2 separate regions of the Homo sapiens genome follow, and region 2 is linked to region 1. A link means that fine-mapping ties the variant in region 1 to the expression of a gene that starts in the linked region. Tissue or cell type: left ventricle. Region 1 holds a variant in brackets; the other region holds the start of a gene. All regions are shown on one strand. Distances are between the middles of the regions.

Region 1 (8,107 bases):
GTGCATCTATATTTCATGTAGCGTATTTTTAAACCACCTATTACAGATTTTGTGCCCATCTTGAACAAGGCCATTTACCCACTCAGGCATTATTTAAGTCTGTTTCCTTAGTAAGTAATGTTTACATGTACAGTTGGCCCTTTGTATCCATGAGCACCATATCCTGGGATTCAACCAGCACGAATCCAGAATATTCAACAAAATAAACAATAAAAAATAACAATACAACAATTAAAAACAACACAGCATAACAACTAGGTACAAAGCATTTACGTTGCATTAGGCATTATAAGTAATCGAGAGGTGATTTAATGTATACAGGAGATATGTAGGTTATATGCAAATACTATGCCATTTTATATAAGGGACTTGAGCATCTGTGAATTTTGGTATTGGGTAGGGGTGCAGATCCTGGAACCAATTCCCAACAGATACCAAGGGATGACTATATATAGGATGCAAGTATAGTCATGCATTCCTAACAACAAGGGTACTTCTGAGAAATGCAGTGTTAGGTGATTTTGTCATTTTGTGAACATCACACAGAGTACTTACACAAACCTAGATGGTATAGTCTACTTACCCTAGGCTGTATGGTATAGCCTGTTGCTCCTAGGCTTTACCCCTGTATGGCATGTTGCTGTTCTGAATAATGTAGTCAGTGGTAAGCATTTGTGTATCTAAACATAGAAAAGGTACAGTAAAATCTCAGCATAGAAAAGGTACAGTTAAAATTTAGCACTATAATCTTATGGGACCACTGTCATACGTGCGGTCCATCATTGACCAAAACATTGTTAAGTGGTGCATGACTATAGACGCTGCAGTTTAGGCTCTAGGGGCTTTGATGAATCCTAAGTAGAGAAAAGCATTGTAGCCTTTTAAAAAGTTACTATAATTTTTAATATATCTTTTTTTGTATAGTTTTATTTAATAACCCTAGGCTTTCTCACCCCTTAATCTTTCTTTATTCTGTAATTACCACAGATAAGTCTCTTTCTCCTATTTCCCATAGTTCTGTTGTCTATACTTACTATAAATTAATTTCATTTCACAACTTTTAGCTTATTTCTTTAACATTAAGCTTGGAATTTCTATATTTCCTTATTTTTTTAAAAACTTTTATATGAGAGTGCTCAATGATATAGGATCGTATATGCAAAAGCCATTAGTTTATATATTAATACCTCTTGCCAGTGACATATTTATAACATTTTACAGGTGGTATAGTAAATTTATTTTTTAGTATTATAAAGTATTTGGGAGCAAAACTTATATTAATCACAGTGAACATATTTAAAATAAAAAGTTTTAAAAATTGTTTTAGTCTTCCTCTAAAATACCTCATTTATTGAATTTACAGGAAAATGGCTAGCATGCCAATCAATGGACAACCAAATCTTAATTTTTGGAGCACAGAACAGATTTAGATTAAATAAGAAAAAAATTTTTAAGGGCCATATGGTAGCAGGCTATGCTTGTCAGGTGGACTTTTCACCAGACATGAGGTAAGTTTAAATCTTCTAATCCATTCTCGTATTCAAATATGATTATATAAACTGTTGTTGTACAAATAACACTTGACACATCACTCTCACATAATATGTTTTTATGAGAACTCGATGATCTGTCAAAATTGTCAAAATGCTGGATATAAAGGCAAGAACAAATTAGGAAAATTACATTTTGCTTTTTTTAGGTTCTTGCTTCAGTATATTCCCTTCTATTACTTAGGCTTATGCCCTTTAGCCACCTAATAAATCCCTGTCTATATAACCAATGCCTTATTTTCTCTGCTTTTCTAAGCAAGACTAGAAGTGCTATAATCACTGTATTGCTATGATTGAATGAACACCAGAAGAATTAATTGTGTATTACAGTGTTGCAGTTACAGCTTCACTACAGCTTGTCTGTGCTGAAACCTCAAATCCAGCTTTTGAATATTTCTAGGTCACACTGGATTTGTGAAGCCTACAGCATGGTTCTTAGTTAAAATGTATAGGCAGAAGTAATTTAGAAATCCCAGTAACTTTGTTTGTTTAGCCTAGTAATTGGGCCTACCTCTGATTCAGTCTTAGATGTATTCAAAAGATATTAAAGCCAAAAAGTAATTATGAAAGTGTTAGAGCCTACTGTGATAGAATAGATCTAAAGGTGTTCCCTAGCTATATGTGGAATTGGTTCTCCAGTCTCTGTTTCTGACTATCTAGAGACTGATTGTGTAACCTCATTCACTGTGGCTCCTGGGACTCCCAGTCTTCCCAGTTAAAAATAATTTTCTACTCTTAGATTGGTTGGGAGGTTTTTTTAATAGAATTTCAAATTATAGACTGCTTCATGTTCTACCATCTTATTCTGAGTATTGTATATTTGCATTGGATTTTTTTTTTAATGTTAACGTGAAAAGATAACGTCCCTATTCCTCATTCGCCTTACCAATTTAAGGTATTTTAATAATTTGAATTTATCTTTCTTCCCATTATAGTTATGTGATTTCAGGAGATGGAAATGGAAAATTAAACATTTGGGACTGGAAGACCACAAAACTCTACAGTCGATTTAAAGCTCATGATAAAGTGTGTATAGGTGCAGTGTGGCATCCTCATGAAACTTCTAAGGTCATAACATGTGGTTGGGATGGTCTCATTAAATTGTGGGATTAATGAGATTAATCCTTAAACTAGCTGGGATCATTTTTGATCCATTGTCATATTTATATTTAATTATTAAATGTATCTGATGATAACTTGATTTACAGATAATGTTGATGACATTGACCCTTTGTTTAAAAAAAGAAACTGTAAATTTGACATAATTTCATTTGCAACTTCATTTTGTTTTTTATAAATGTTATTTATACAGAAAGTGGCTATTGACTTTCTATTTGACAAGTAGTTATAATTGGCAAGCAGTTTGAGTTTATACTCATGACATACTGAAAGCATCTCTTTGGGGTCAAGAAAGAATCCCTAGTGGATTTGGGATTCTAGAGGAGGTGTTATAATTAATTATTCAGAAAAATGCATGTATTTACCTCTTCAACCAAAAGGGCAGTAAAGAATAGGGATAATATATTTTAATGTAAATTTGGAAGAAGGATAAAATCACCCACAGTTACTCTCCCTATTATTTTCACTGGGTCAAGTTTTAATCTTTTGGCTTCATGAGTTCCACTCCCTTTGATGATATATGTTGTATATTTTTAGTTGTAAAGCAGTAATCTTTAACTGTAGCATTCCTCTAATTATAAACAGTGAAAAATCAAAATCAGTCCAGAGTTCTTTTGTTGACTTAATTCCTGATCAGTATAGACAGGACTATATATATTTAATCAGAGAATTACATTATATCTGAAGATGGAGCTCAGGAGAATGCACCAAGACTTTGAATTGTATTTACATTCACTGTCAGTAAAGACCTGGCTACGCTTTGAGAAATCAGGATCTCCTAGGTCATTGCTTCGCAGCTGTGATTACTGAAATCCTCCTCATAGGAGATAAAGTACGAGGGGTAGAGTCCAAGATGTCAACTTGTAATTTCTTTGAAGTCATATGTTTTATCTTTAAAATTATTCTTATTTTACCTGTGAATATATACAACAGAACTTTTTAAGATTAAAAAATTTTTAAACCTCTATGTCTGAAAAAAAAAATGACACTCCTGGAAGATGGCTAGGGTTCCCCAGTTTGAGAAGCAGTGGCCATGGTGAAAAATAGTTTTTGAAAACATCAGATTATAAAATCAAGATAGTCCGGACGCGGTGGCACATGCCTGTAATCCCAGCACTTTGGGAGGCTGAGGCAGGTGAATCACCTGAGGTCAGGAGTTCAAGACCAGCCTGGCCAACATAGTGAAACCCCGTCTCTACTAAAAACACAAAAATTAGCCAGGCTTGGTGGCTGGC[G/A]CCTGTAATTCCAGCTACTCAGAAGGCTGAGGCAGGGAGAATTGCTTGAACCCAGGAGTGGAGGTTGCAGTGAGCTGAGATCATGCCACTGCACTCCAGCCTGGGCGACAGAGCGAGACTCCACCTCAAAAAATAAAATCAAGATAACCTCTTGAATGTAATAGCTCATAGCACTTTAATTTGGCAAGCCATTTTTCCTGTTTTATTATAAATCTATATTAGATGTTTGAATATGGTTTGAAATATTTCACTACCGTGCTGAAAAAGGTTGGTTGATAGCAGCTTGGAGTGCTAACTGGAAGATCAAAATCATGTCTCTTGCTGATAACCTAAGAGCATTAAGCTCTGAGTCCAGTGAGGTCATAGCAGTGTATGCTCCTTGCCCTTACGGAGTGTCTGTTTTTAGAAATTTAGATTTTAAAAGGCGTGGGACATACGACCAGGCCCTATAGCCACATAAATATAAATTTCATAGAAAAAGAATAAAAGCGGAGATATATTTTTTGACACAGAGGCACCCAAAGAAATACAAACATTGCCTAGCTGCTGCCATTTCTGTAACTGCCCAGAAGGGTGACAGATTTCTGAAGGGGAAAGGATTCAGATATGACCTTTTCTTTAGTCCCAACCACTAGTTTTAACAAATGTGAATTATTGAAATGTGAAGGGACAAAAAGAATCATACATTTAAACTGTCTTGTTCAGCATACCAATATTGTATGTTACAAATCATCATTTCTAAATCTGGATTGATTCTGTTGTGTTTTTGACTGTTTCTAAAGTAAGTGTGTATAAAAGTCTCCTTTTTAAAAAGATCATATTTTTAAATAAAGCATTTTTTGTAGAAAGTGCTATCAAAATGTTCATCTTGTTCATCTTTAGTCTCCTTTTGAGTCTTAAGTGTATTGAGACACTAGATTAAGCCATTTGCAGTTTTAAATGGGTCATATGGAGAGAAATAATGCTTTAGAGGTGGATGTGGTTTATTCAGGTATATCAGTGGGTTTATAATTATATAATAAAATACATGGCAGTACCCTCAGAGCACATTAACACATTCCATATTCATTTAGTGGTGGCACTAAGTCATGACTACACAACATTTTAGAGTACATAAATGAGTGGGGTTATATTTCAGCATAAAAAGTCTCAAGATCACATTGTTACTGGACTTAGGTGGTTACCATCTGGCTCCTTTTCCTTATTGCAGCCTTTTTGTCATATCCAGGACAGATTTCCTTCCTAAAAGTTACGATAAAAGTGATGCTTTAGTGAAATATTTACTGGAATGAATATTTAAATATTGAGTCACAAGCTGGAAATATTTTGTCCTAAACAAGGAACAAATTTTAAGATTAAAAAACGGGAGTAGTGTTACACAGCCACATTTCTAAGTAGTTCTTGAGGCTACATTGTGGGGCTGCCTGGTATCCTTGGTATATTTATAAAATACCTGTAAGAAAACATTGACTTTGAAATAGCAAACCCTTAGATGGTAACCATAAATATCACAACACTGGGAACAATTATAGAGACTTTTCTTGGAGAACATTGTTTCTCAGGGTATGGACTGAGAACCTCTGCATCTGAATTACCTAGGGGTTGCGTTGCTTACTGAGATGTAGAATTCAGAAAAAAGTAGGAATTATTTGGGGGAGCCATTGTGAATTCAGGTATGGGAAGGGGTATAAAGTGGCATCCAGGCACCCAGTATCCTTCAGCAGTATTAAATGTGGGTCTCAAAGTGAGACCTGGGGAAACTGATTCCATGTATCATCACAGATGCATATTTTTCACATTTTGACATTTTTGAATAGGGCTCTAGTTAAAATAAATGAATGTCCTAGTTTAATGGGCAGCATTTAATTTTTTCTTAGTATATCATAAAATAATTGATGAAATACAGTAAAAACAAGGCAAGTACGAAGGGCCTGAGAAGAAGAGAAGATCCAATGGGAGGAAAGTGTCTGTTGCAGCACTGGGCTCAAAATTCAGGTTATGAAATGTTTCTTTGATCACTGAGTAAAATGAACGAACTAACTGAAGATTCAAATTAAAAATATATATTTATATATATATGTAGACACACAAATAATCACTAGAAAGCTTTTTTTTTTTTTTTTTTTTTGAGACAGTTTCACTCTTGTTGCCCAGGCTGGAGTGCAATGGTGCGATCTCAGATCACCACAACCTCTGCCTCCCGAGTTCAAGCGATTCTCCTGCCTCAGCCTCCCGAGTAGCTGGGATTACAGGCATGCGCCACCACAGCCCAGCTAGTTTTGTATTTTTAGTAGAGATGGGGTTTCTCCATGTTGGTCAGGCTGGTCTCGAACTCCTGACCTCAGGTGATCTGCCCTCCTCAGCCTCCCAAAGTGCTGGGATTACAGGCATGAGCCACCGTACCCGGCCAGCTTTTTTTTAATGTAGAATTTTTGTTCCCAACTCAGATCTTCAAATCAAAGTCAGCACTTTTAGCAAGATCCCCAAATGAGAAGCACTGAGGTAGAGTCCCAAATTTATCTTGGGCATTTGGGAAACTAGACTATGTGGGACATGTAAAGTCAAAGAGAAATTTAGCTGGTCAAAAATATGCACTGTACACATGTGTATGTGCATGTATATGTGTGTATAATGTATGCACATAGTATATGTGTACATGTTCCATATTCATAGTCACTTTAATAATTGTGGAAACAACTTTCTAAACCTAATTGCAATTTTATCTGGAACTTAAAAGAAGTCACAGACTTGCAGCCAGCACCCTTAGAGTGACTATTTTTAGTGACAGTAAGTGAAAGTGAAACTCTTGATTCTACAGCTTCTTACATCTGCAATAGCTGTCATCAAATGAGTTTCTTTCATTCCCCACTCTCCAGCCTCCAGCTTTTTAGGTCTGGGGGAGCAACTCAGATCTCCATGTTTTATTTGTTTTAATATACTTCTGTCCAATAGATATATGTCAGTCATATATGTGATTTTAAATTTTCTAATAGCCAGGTTTAAAAGGGACTTAATAATATATTTTAACATATCCAAAATTTTATCTGAAGATGTACTCAATTATTTTAAAAATTAATATTTTACTTTTTTCATATGGAGTCTGAAATCTGGTATATATTTTACACTTACAGCACATCTCAATTCAGACACTACATTTTCATCAAAGTATTTTATCTTTCATACAAAGTAGATTTACATGCCCAAATTGTTTCAAACATACTTAGAAGTTTTCCAATAACAAAATCAAGTGCAGTCACGTGTTGCTTAACAATGGGGATACGTTCTAAGAAATGTGTCATTAGGTGATGTCATTGTTGTCCGAACATCATAGAGTTAACGTATGTACCAAACCTAGGTGGTATAGCCTACTCCATTGCATAGTTCCATTATAATCTTAGGGGACCACCATCATATGGTGGTCTGTCACTGAGCGAAAGGTTATTATGTGGTATGTGACTGTATATTTTAATTTAAATTAATTAAAAGTAAATGTAATTTAAAATTTAGTTTCTCAGTTAACCACAGTTTTAAGTGCTCAGTAGCAATATGCCTCTAGAGGCTGCCATATTGCACAGTACAGTTATAGTACCACATTTTACATAAGAGTGGCTCAGATATTCAGTATACTGCCTCATCTTCTGAAAAATATTGTAAGGTTCAATCTGATCGTAAAATATCTCATATAAAAAATACAAATGCTCATATTTTTCTTGCTACATTTTGGGTAATTTCCTCAGGCCTGTCTTCCAGGTTTTTTTTTTTTTTTTTTTTTTTTTTTTGAGACAGAGTCTCGCTCTGTCGCCCAGGCTGGAGTGCGGTGGCTGGATCTCGGCTCACTGCAAGCTCCGCCTCCCGGGTTCACGCCATTCTCCTGCCTCAGCCTCCCAAGTAGCTGGGACAACAGGCGCCCGCCACCGCGCCCGGCTAATTTTTTGTATTTTTAGTAGAGATGGGGTTTCACTGTGTTAGCCAGGATGGTCTCGATCTGCTGACCTCATGATCCGCCCGCCTTGGCCTCCCAAAGTGCTGGGATTACAGGCGTGAGCCACTGCGCCCGCCTCCAGTTCATTTTACGTCTCTGTAGTTGTGTCCAGGGTGCCATTGTTCCATTAAACTTCTTATTTCCATGGCTGTTTTTCTTTTCTGGAAGGTGTATTTGTACTTTTTTATATTTACCTGTTCTTTTTCACAGTGTCGTATTTT
Region 2 (8,107 bases), 130 kb after region 1:
GAAGTCACTTTTCTATCCAACATATTAAATGTCAAGTAAAATATATCCGATAAGAGAGATGAAACTTTTTCGGGAAGCTTGGCCACTGAGTGAGTGTCTCTCTTTTGCAAATGGGCCCTGTATGTTGCATCTGTCTTTTAGGTGGATTGCCAACCTATAAGAGATAAAACATCCACCCAAGAGCTGCATTAAAAAGCATAAATCATGAAGACCATATCTAGTCCTCTATAAATCCCTTCAAAAAGAACTTTATCTGTAATCATAGTAAAGGTCTGTTTCATTTAAGAAAGAAAAAAAACCCAAACAGAAACACATGCAGATAGAAAACAGAGAGAAAATAAAAGAATCACAGTGGTATTTTTATGCATGCATAGTATGCGAAATTTGGAGATGAAGAGTCCCGACAGAATGCTTAAAGAATCTGTAATACACAAGAATATATAGGTTCCAGGGTGGGCATAATCAAAAAGGGCAGTATTTATCCATCATCTATCATTGGCTCTCATTTTGCAAAGCTTGAAGATTAGAACCCCTGATGTCGAAAGATCTGAAAATATTTAGAGCTAGTTCTTGCATGGCTCCATGAAGAAGGGGACGAGGAAAGAAAGAATTATATGAGGACTACACTTCACTACTCTTTTTTATAGCAGATTGTTTTCTTTAAGAGGAGCATAAGCTGTGATTAAAGTGGCAGAATTTTGGTGCCTCTAACACCTGGAATGGAAGCAGAGTAACAAGAAATACTTGGCAACCCAATTATTTCATGCAGGTTTTCATCTACCCAGAAAGCTGTCCTCAAAATAGAATGGAACTTTTTCTCCTTTATCAATCTGGGAGGTGCCTGGGGCAAAGTAACCAAGAACCTAAGAATATTGTTGATCAGTATTCTCAACAAACAAAATCTAAATACACTGTGATCCAAGGAGTTTAACAAATAGCTTCCTAATTTTATTTCAATTACTTAATGGTACATTCAGCTTACATTACAGTGCTGTCTTGATGTGAGGCAGAAAAGAAACAAGACTTGTCCCTAGAGAGATATGGGGTTATTGAGCTTTGTTCCCAGAAGTGGGAGGATGGATTAGATAACTGATCTTTCTATAGTTTTAAGGAATATTTTAATTCAACTGTGAAATAATGGGAGAATAAAACAAATTCAAGATCAACACTATCTAGGGATTTGGGAAGGTTAGATGTATATCCCGAAAATAATAGCTAGCGAGAAGGAAATCTAAGAAAATGTTTACCTTAGGAGACTAAAAACTTAATATTTTAGAAATAGCAAAAGGCCCATTTATTTCTTATAAATTTTTAACCAAAGACATTTACAGTTACTGAATAGGCTGAAATAGTAAGATTCTTATACTTTCACATACTGGGGTCTCAGGAGTAAACATTTACTAGGGGTCACTATGGGAAATACAATCCTTCCCATCAAGAACAACTGTGGAGACAAAACATTCCATCCGAAATGGATTATCAGGCCTCAACTTGTACAAAGCAATGCACAAATCAGACTCTTTCTGTTGTCATTCCAAGTGGGGGAGGGGTCAGCATGAAGCAGGGTTGCTATGGGAAGGTTTCTGGGCTATGAACCTTGACCTGAGGAATGTCCAAGGGTGAAAAGGGCAGGAGTCATAAGAAAGGGGGATGGGGCCTTGCAGGTAGAGGAGTGAGCATAAGCCACCTTTGTAGGTTACAGTGAATGACGTTTGGAGACTGGCTGAGGCTAAAAACCTGGGGCCTACTGTAGAAAGTAAAGCTACCATTATTGAGAGCTAAACATGCCAGGCACAAAGCTAAACATTTCCTTTACTTTTTTCCCTAATTTAATTGTAATAAAACTGAGCCCCAGGCCACAGGCTCGGATTGCTTCTCTTTGTTAGCCACACTCACTTCCTAGATGACCACATACGATCTCTCAGTTTTACTGCCATTTGTACTTGGATGATTCTCAAATCACCACCTTCAGCCTGGACATCTCCTCCAAGCTCTGGACTCACACGTCCGGTTGCCTATTTGACATTTTCACATGCATGCCTGAAGGATATCTTAAACTGAATTCCTGCTTTCCATCTATCCCCCAAACAAAACAAACAAGAGAGAAATAACTGCTCCTCCTCATCCACCTTCCAAACACATCCAGAAACCAACCACTTCTCACCACCTCCACACCTACCACAGCAAGCCACCCCCATCTCCAGCCTGAATCACTGTGGCAGCCTCCTAGCTCCTAGCAGGGATGAGTGTGAACCTCCCCTCCAGCGCCCCACTGAGTCTATGCATTCCAAACCTGTCCTTTGTAGGACAGGCTCCAGCCATCAGTACTGTCGTTTGAGGTACAGACAAAGAGTTAAGAGTAATTACTTGACAGATGACAGCAGAAACAACAGATGCTGAGTGAATCTAAAAGGAAAACTGCAGGGAGGGGTTGAGGGTGTCAAGGATGGAACATTGAGGACATCCAGAGGGGAATAAAAGAAGCCCCACTCTTAAGAAACATCACAGTGTTGGCCAGGCGCAGTGGCTCACGCCTGTAATTCCAGCACTTTGGGGGATTGAGGCGGGTGGGTCACTTGAGGTCAGGAGTTCGATACCAGCCTGGCCAACATGGTGAAACCCATCTCTATTAAAAATACAAAAATTAGCCCAGCGTGGTGGTGCACGCCTGTAATCCCAGCTACTCGGTAGGCTGAGCCAGAAGAATCGCTTGAACCCGGGAGACGGAAGTGGCAGTGAGCCAAGATCAAGCCACTGTACTCCAGCCTGGGCGACACAGCAAGACTCCGGCTCAAATAAAAAAAAGAAAAAGAAAAGAAAAGAAAAGAAAAAGAAAAGAAAGAAACATCACATTGTAACTCAAATATGTCCCCCGCCTTGAGCAGCCTTTCTTGACTCCCCAGGCAGAGCTGAAGGCCTCAATTACAGGATTGGAAATCACCGGATGCCTGTGCTAAGAGCCTCCCCCACGAGAATCTGAACTCGTTTTGTGCCTCCAGCACCAGATGCCTACCTGGTAAGCCCTTGGCAAAACTGTGCTGAATGTTTAACATGGTATCACGGACAGTGAATTAGGAACTTGGAGAGGAAGTGGCTGCTTTCTTCTGGAAGATCTAATCAAGACTTTACACAGGAGGTGAGGTTTGCGAGATAGAAAAAGGTATTTCAGTTTATCCAGGAAGTTAGCACGATGGCCCAGCAAGGAACAGCAGTGGTGTGGAAAAACGGAGGGCGAGGCCCGAAGGAAGCGAGGAAGTGAAGCCCGGCAGGAGTGCTGGGTTGTGGTGCTGAAAAGTAGGCTAGCACTGGGCAGCCGAAGACAGCAGCGAGGCAAAGGAAGAGTTGTTCCCTCCCCTCCAGGACCGGTGATGGGAAGCGGGGTGGAGGTTGGGGTGGATGTCTAAAAGAAACGAGGAACAGCCGGGCAACGGAAAGTAGTTGCTTTGGAGAACGTGGTTGAGGCTGGAAGCAGGAGTTGATGGGTAAAAGGATGAGGAGAGCTCATACCTGTAGTTCTTTTCATTTCCATGTACGACGCAAATTACCGAGCTCCAAAAAGGAGATGAGCCCAAAACCTTAACAATCAGAGGCTAAAAATGGACTAATCAGTGAGGTGTAAGCCAAGAAGTTAATGAGGTAGGAGGCACAACACGGTCGAGAGTTATAAGACAAACCCAGGTTATTACTTGGGTCCTCGAGGATCCAATTAACTTCTCATTAAGTGGGGCTGGGTGCTCGGCTTCTCAACTGGCGCCAGCCTCCCAGCCCCCAGCCAACGCCTGGAATGAGACTCCAGGGAAATTCGGCCAGCTGGTGGATCTTCAGCGAGATGAAGGCAGTGGCGTGGACAGGCCATTCACGGCGATACCCACCCAACTCTGTCCAGGCCTTAAGCAGAAGGCTGGGAGCAGCACAGCACATCAATGGCAGCCACAACGCCTTCCTTTCCCTTTCCCTTTCCCTGCCTATCACGCAAACACTCCCCTACTAAAGTGTATCCTCCGTGAGAACAGGGCTCCGTCCTTCTTCACGGGATGCGCGGAGCCTAGAAGGGCGCCCGGCCACGGCGACCCCCAAGTACTGGCTGAATAGTGAATGAACTCCGCTTGGCCGCACTTCAGTCTATCTGGGCACTGAAAGATGCGACCCGTGGAGCCGCCTAAGAGAGCACAGGGGGAAGAGAAGAAGCGGAAGCCTCCGGAGGTCCCATCGAGGCGGCCTGCGGGACCTGAGCGCCGGGCTCCGTAGCGCGGTCGGGAGGGGGCTTCTGGTCCCAGGCCCAAGACCGACCGCTTTGCAACTGACCTTCCGGCGGGGGCGCCCGCGCGGGGCACAGCAGCCAGGCTCCGGCGTCCCGCTCCCGCCGCCCCCCGGCGGCGCCCGGCGACCGCTGCGCACGTAGGTCACCTGCCTCCTGCTGGCGCCGCGCGGCTGGCCCGGCGCGGGCGGCAGGTGCGGCCCAGGTGGCCGCCAGGCCGGGCCCGGCGGGGCGCTGCGGGTGGGGGACCCGGGCCCGGCGCGCCGCAGCTCTGCGCAGAGCCGCAGGCCGAACAACAGCACAGCCCCGAGTAGACACCGGCGCAGGACGCCGCAGCCCCTCCCGGGCGGCCTCTCCCGGGCCATGGCGCTACACTCGGGGTCCCGCGGGCCGCGCCTGGCCGGCAGCAGGGATGTAGCCCCACAGGCCGGAGCGGCCAACTGTGGGAACTCCCCCGCGGGCCGGGGTGCGGGCTCGGACCCGCCTCCCTCCCTCCCGACCGAGGAAGCCCCGGCGTAACCTTATCCTGCCCTGCCGAGCGCGCCCCGCCGCTGGAACGGTGGTGGGCCGAACGCGGTCACAGGGGGCCCTCTCCGCCCCTCCGGAGGTGCCAGGGCCCGGCTGTACAGGGTCCCTCAAGAGGTGCCCTCCGCCCCGGCCTCCAAAGCCTGACGGAGCTGAAAGACATAGGGCCAGAAAAAGCGCATTCCTAACGGGATCCCGGGCCATAACTTCATTTTCTGGTATTAGTGTTGTTGGAGAAACACAGGAGGAGGGTAGGTGAGCATACAAGGAACAGTCAAGCAGTTTGCACCATTAAGCACAATATAAAAATAAATAGCACTTATGCCCGGGCTTACAACTTCTCTCTCTCTCTCAAGAAAGAAAGGGATTGGGGGGCGAAGAGAATAGCACTCAATGCAGAATAATCAAATTAGAGTTATTCTATGTCTAAATTCTGCCTGAAGCCAATTCGTGCTTTCTTTCCGTGTTATGAAATGTGTGGGGGTGAAGAAGAAGAGGGAAAAAGCCAGCTAAGACATCTGACAGCGGGTTGGTGAGGAGGGGGGAGAGAGAACAGAAGTTACCATGGCATGATGTAAATCAAATTAATTTAGCTCCAAACACACACCTCCCTGCTGTCTCGCAGAAATACAGAGGGACAAATTTATCTTTCGGCAAAATGCTCCCCAGCTGGTATTTCCATCACCACCTTGACCTTAATTAATCAGACTGAACTCTCACAGCCTGAAGTCCAGTGGTGGATGTTCCATTTTCAATTGTTAGTAGAATCCTTTCCCACAACCCATTTGGGGTGGGTTTGGGTTTTAGGTTTGAGTTTGGGTTTAGATTTTTTTAAGCTGTAGTCACTTTTCTTTTTTTCCTTGCTTTACTCTTGCATTTTCCATGCTTCCATGGGAGACTGCGCCTGTAGACCTATCCTCTTCCCCCGTAACAGCCTACAGCATGGACAAGAGAGAACAAATATGGGGCCCTACCCCCCTGCCCTTTTGAATGTTGGGTATTTTCCGTAGGAAGCCCTCGTCTCTAAAATCCTCTTCTCTTCCTGGCTTAAGAAAGACCCAATTTATTCCCTGCTAGTGAACAAAGCACTTGGGCTGTTTCTCTACATGTAACAAAATATCTCCACCCAGTCTAGTCCACCCCCTGGCCACACCAGATCCTCAGGCTCCTGAACGTTCCATTAGGATTGACTTTTGCTTTTTTCTTAGATGAGTCCAGGGGATATTGCAGATGGGTTCTATTTTAACAAATTTAAACAAGTACGAGTTTTTCCTTACACAAACTGAGAGCCAGCCTCACATCCTGTGACTATTTACTTGAACTGTGTTTGAACCAGGACCCTGCCGTTCAAGCACTATGAGACTTTCAACGAAGTACTGGACCTCTCTGAGTTTCCGTTTTCCCATGAATAAACAGATCTATATATATGGCAGGATTATAAATGTTGCATAAAATATTATATGTTTCATGCCCAAATAATACTGGCTCACAGAAGGGTCTCAATAGTAATTATTTTGTTATTTACCATGGAAGAAAATCCTGGATGTTGTCATGAAAAACAAAAGGTAAGCATTGATTCCAAAGTGGGCAAAGATAAAGTATAAGGAAATTTACAAATAATTTATACAGCATTCTCTGGAATTCAGAGTACCCAATAATTTCAAGAAAATAACAATTAATCATCAAGAAACGAACTCTGTTAAGTTGTATAAGGCTCTTTAAGACAGAGTTTGTAGGGTGCTTGATAAACCTGGATTGGTAATGTCTGATGTAGACTTTGCTGGAAGTTTTATTTTCTATGCAGTCAACACAGTGCCGCTAACTAGAGAAGTCATATTTTGAAGATCATGGTGCCACTAGTGCGTACCCTCTGCTCCTCTGTTGAGTTTCTCTCTGGGGGTGGGTGGGGAAGCATAAGCACTCTCCTATATTATTAAAATGGGGATATTTAATAAGACTCTGGGCTGGGGGTGGAGGATGGAGTGGGGGTGCATACAAAACAGTGTAGCTCTTGAAGAGAATGGGCAGGATGACCTCATATTTTCCTTTATCTCATTTCTACAGTTCTCTAATAAAATGTTTTCATTATGGAAAAAAATTCAAATTACATGGAATATTTAAATAGCCTTTTATCTTTTGCAGTTGTGTTTATGTCTATGTGTTTATTACTAATAAAAAAGAACCGTTTATATGTATGTAGCATCAATTTTCTGGAAGAAACCTATTTTTAACTTCCACACAGTGTTTTCCTGTGTGGTGGATGATAATGAATAGTAAAATGGGTCAGTCTGTGGGCTGAAGAGGCAAATCTAATGGATCACTGTTGTAGCTGACAAGCAATCTTTCATTCACGACCTTTGCTTTTCTTATAGAGTTGAACTTGTCTCAGTCCTTTCTGGATGTGTCTCAAAAATGCAGATAATCATTAACCGCTGTGTCATAGGCTGGTTAATTAAACAAGCAGGTCAGTAAACCACAATAGCGGCTTTCATCAGATCACAGATTACATCCTCCTAGAGGTTTTAGCCAGAAAAATGTGTGAAACAGAACATTTCTAATCTCCTAAACAACATGCATTTCAACTTGGACACCTGCTGTAGTGCTGTGATTCTCAACCAGGGTTGGTTTTGCCTCCCAGGGGACATTTGGCAATGTCTGAAGATGTTTTTGGTTGTTACCACTGGAGGATGCTACTGGCGTCTAATGGCTACCTATTAGACTAGGGATGCAGCTAAGCCTCCTCCAGTGCAAAAGATAGCCTTCCACAACAAAGACTTGTCCAGCCCAGAATGTCAGGAGAGCCTAAGTTGAGAAAACCTGCTGTAACTATAGATGCCAATGTGGTCATTTTAAATTATAGACTGTCCAAAGAGAAAACAGAGCCGATAGTATCCTCACCTTCATCAAGTGGTTATTTATATCTCACAATGTGACATACCCAGTGTGTTAGTCCTTTTTTGTGTCACTATAAAGAAATACCTGAGGCTAAGTAATGTATAACAAAAAGAGGTTTAATTGGCTCTTGGTTCTGCATGCTGTACATGAAGCATAGTGCCAGCATCTGCTTTTGGTGAGGCCTCAGGAAGTTTACAGTCATGGCAGAAGGCAAAGGGTGAGCCAGTGCATCACATGGTGAGAATGGGAGCAAGAGAGAAAGGAAGGAGCTGCCAGCCTCTTTTAAACAATCAGATCGCCCATGAACTAATAGAGCAAGAACTCGCTTATCACAAAGGGGGGATAGTGCTAAGCCATTCGTGAGGGATCCACCCCCATGATCCAATATCTCCCGCTAGGCCCCACCTCCAACACTGGAAGTCACATTTC

What was found. PIP is the estimated chance that this variant, and not a neighbour inherited with it, causes the effect.
Region 2: it holds the start of METTL24, and the variant in region 1 is the best candidate, but not a certain one, in a credible set for the expression of METTL24 in left ventricle (GTEx, PIP 0.81).

Annotation. Positions count from the first base shown.
Region 1 is chr6:110,227,469-110,235,575 of GRCh38, forward strand. It overlaps CDC40 (cell division cycle 40), which reads left to right. Exons shown (of 15, transcript NM_015891.3): 14 at 1,364-1,508; 15 at 2,486-4,764. The coding sequence ends at 2,663. Among named protein-coding and RNA genes, the nearest start is that of CDC40, 51 kb to the left of the region's middle. The variant G/A (reference allele first, on the strand shown) is at 3,905.
Region 2 is chr6:110,353,650-110,361,756 of GRCh38, forward strand. METTL24 (methyltransferase like 24) reads right to left here and starts at 4,700. Exons shown (of 5, transcript NM_001123364.3): 1 at 4,306-4,700. The coding sequence starts at 4,623. RefSeq lists an enhancer at 7,037-7,331.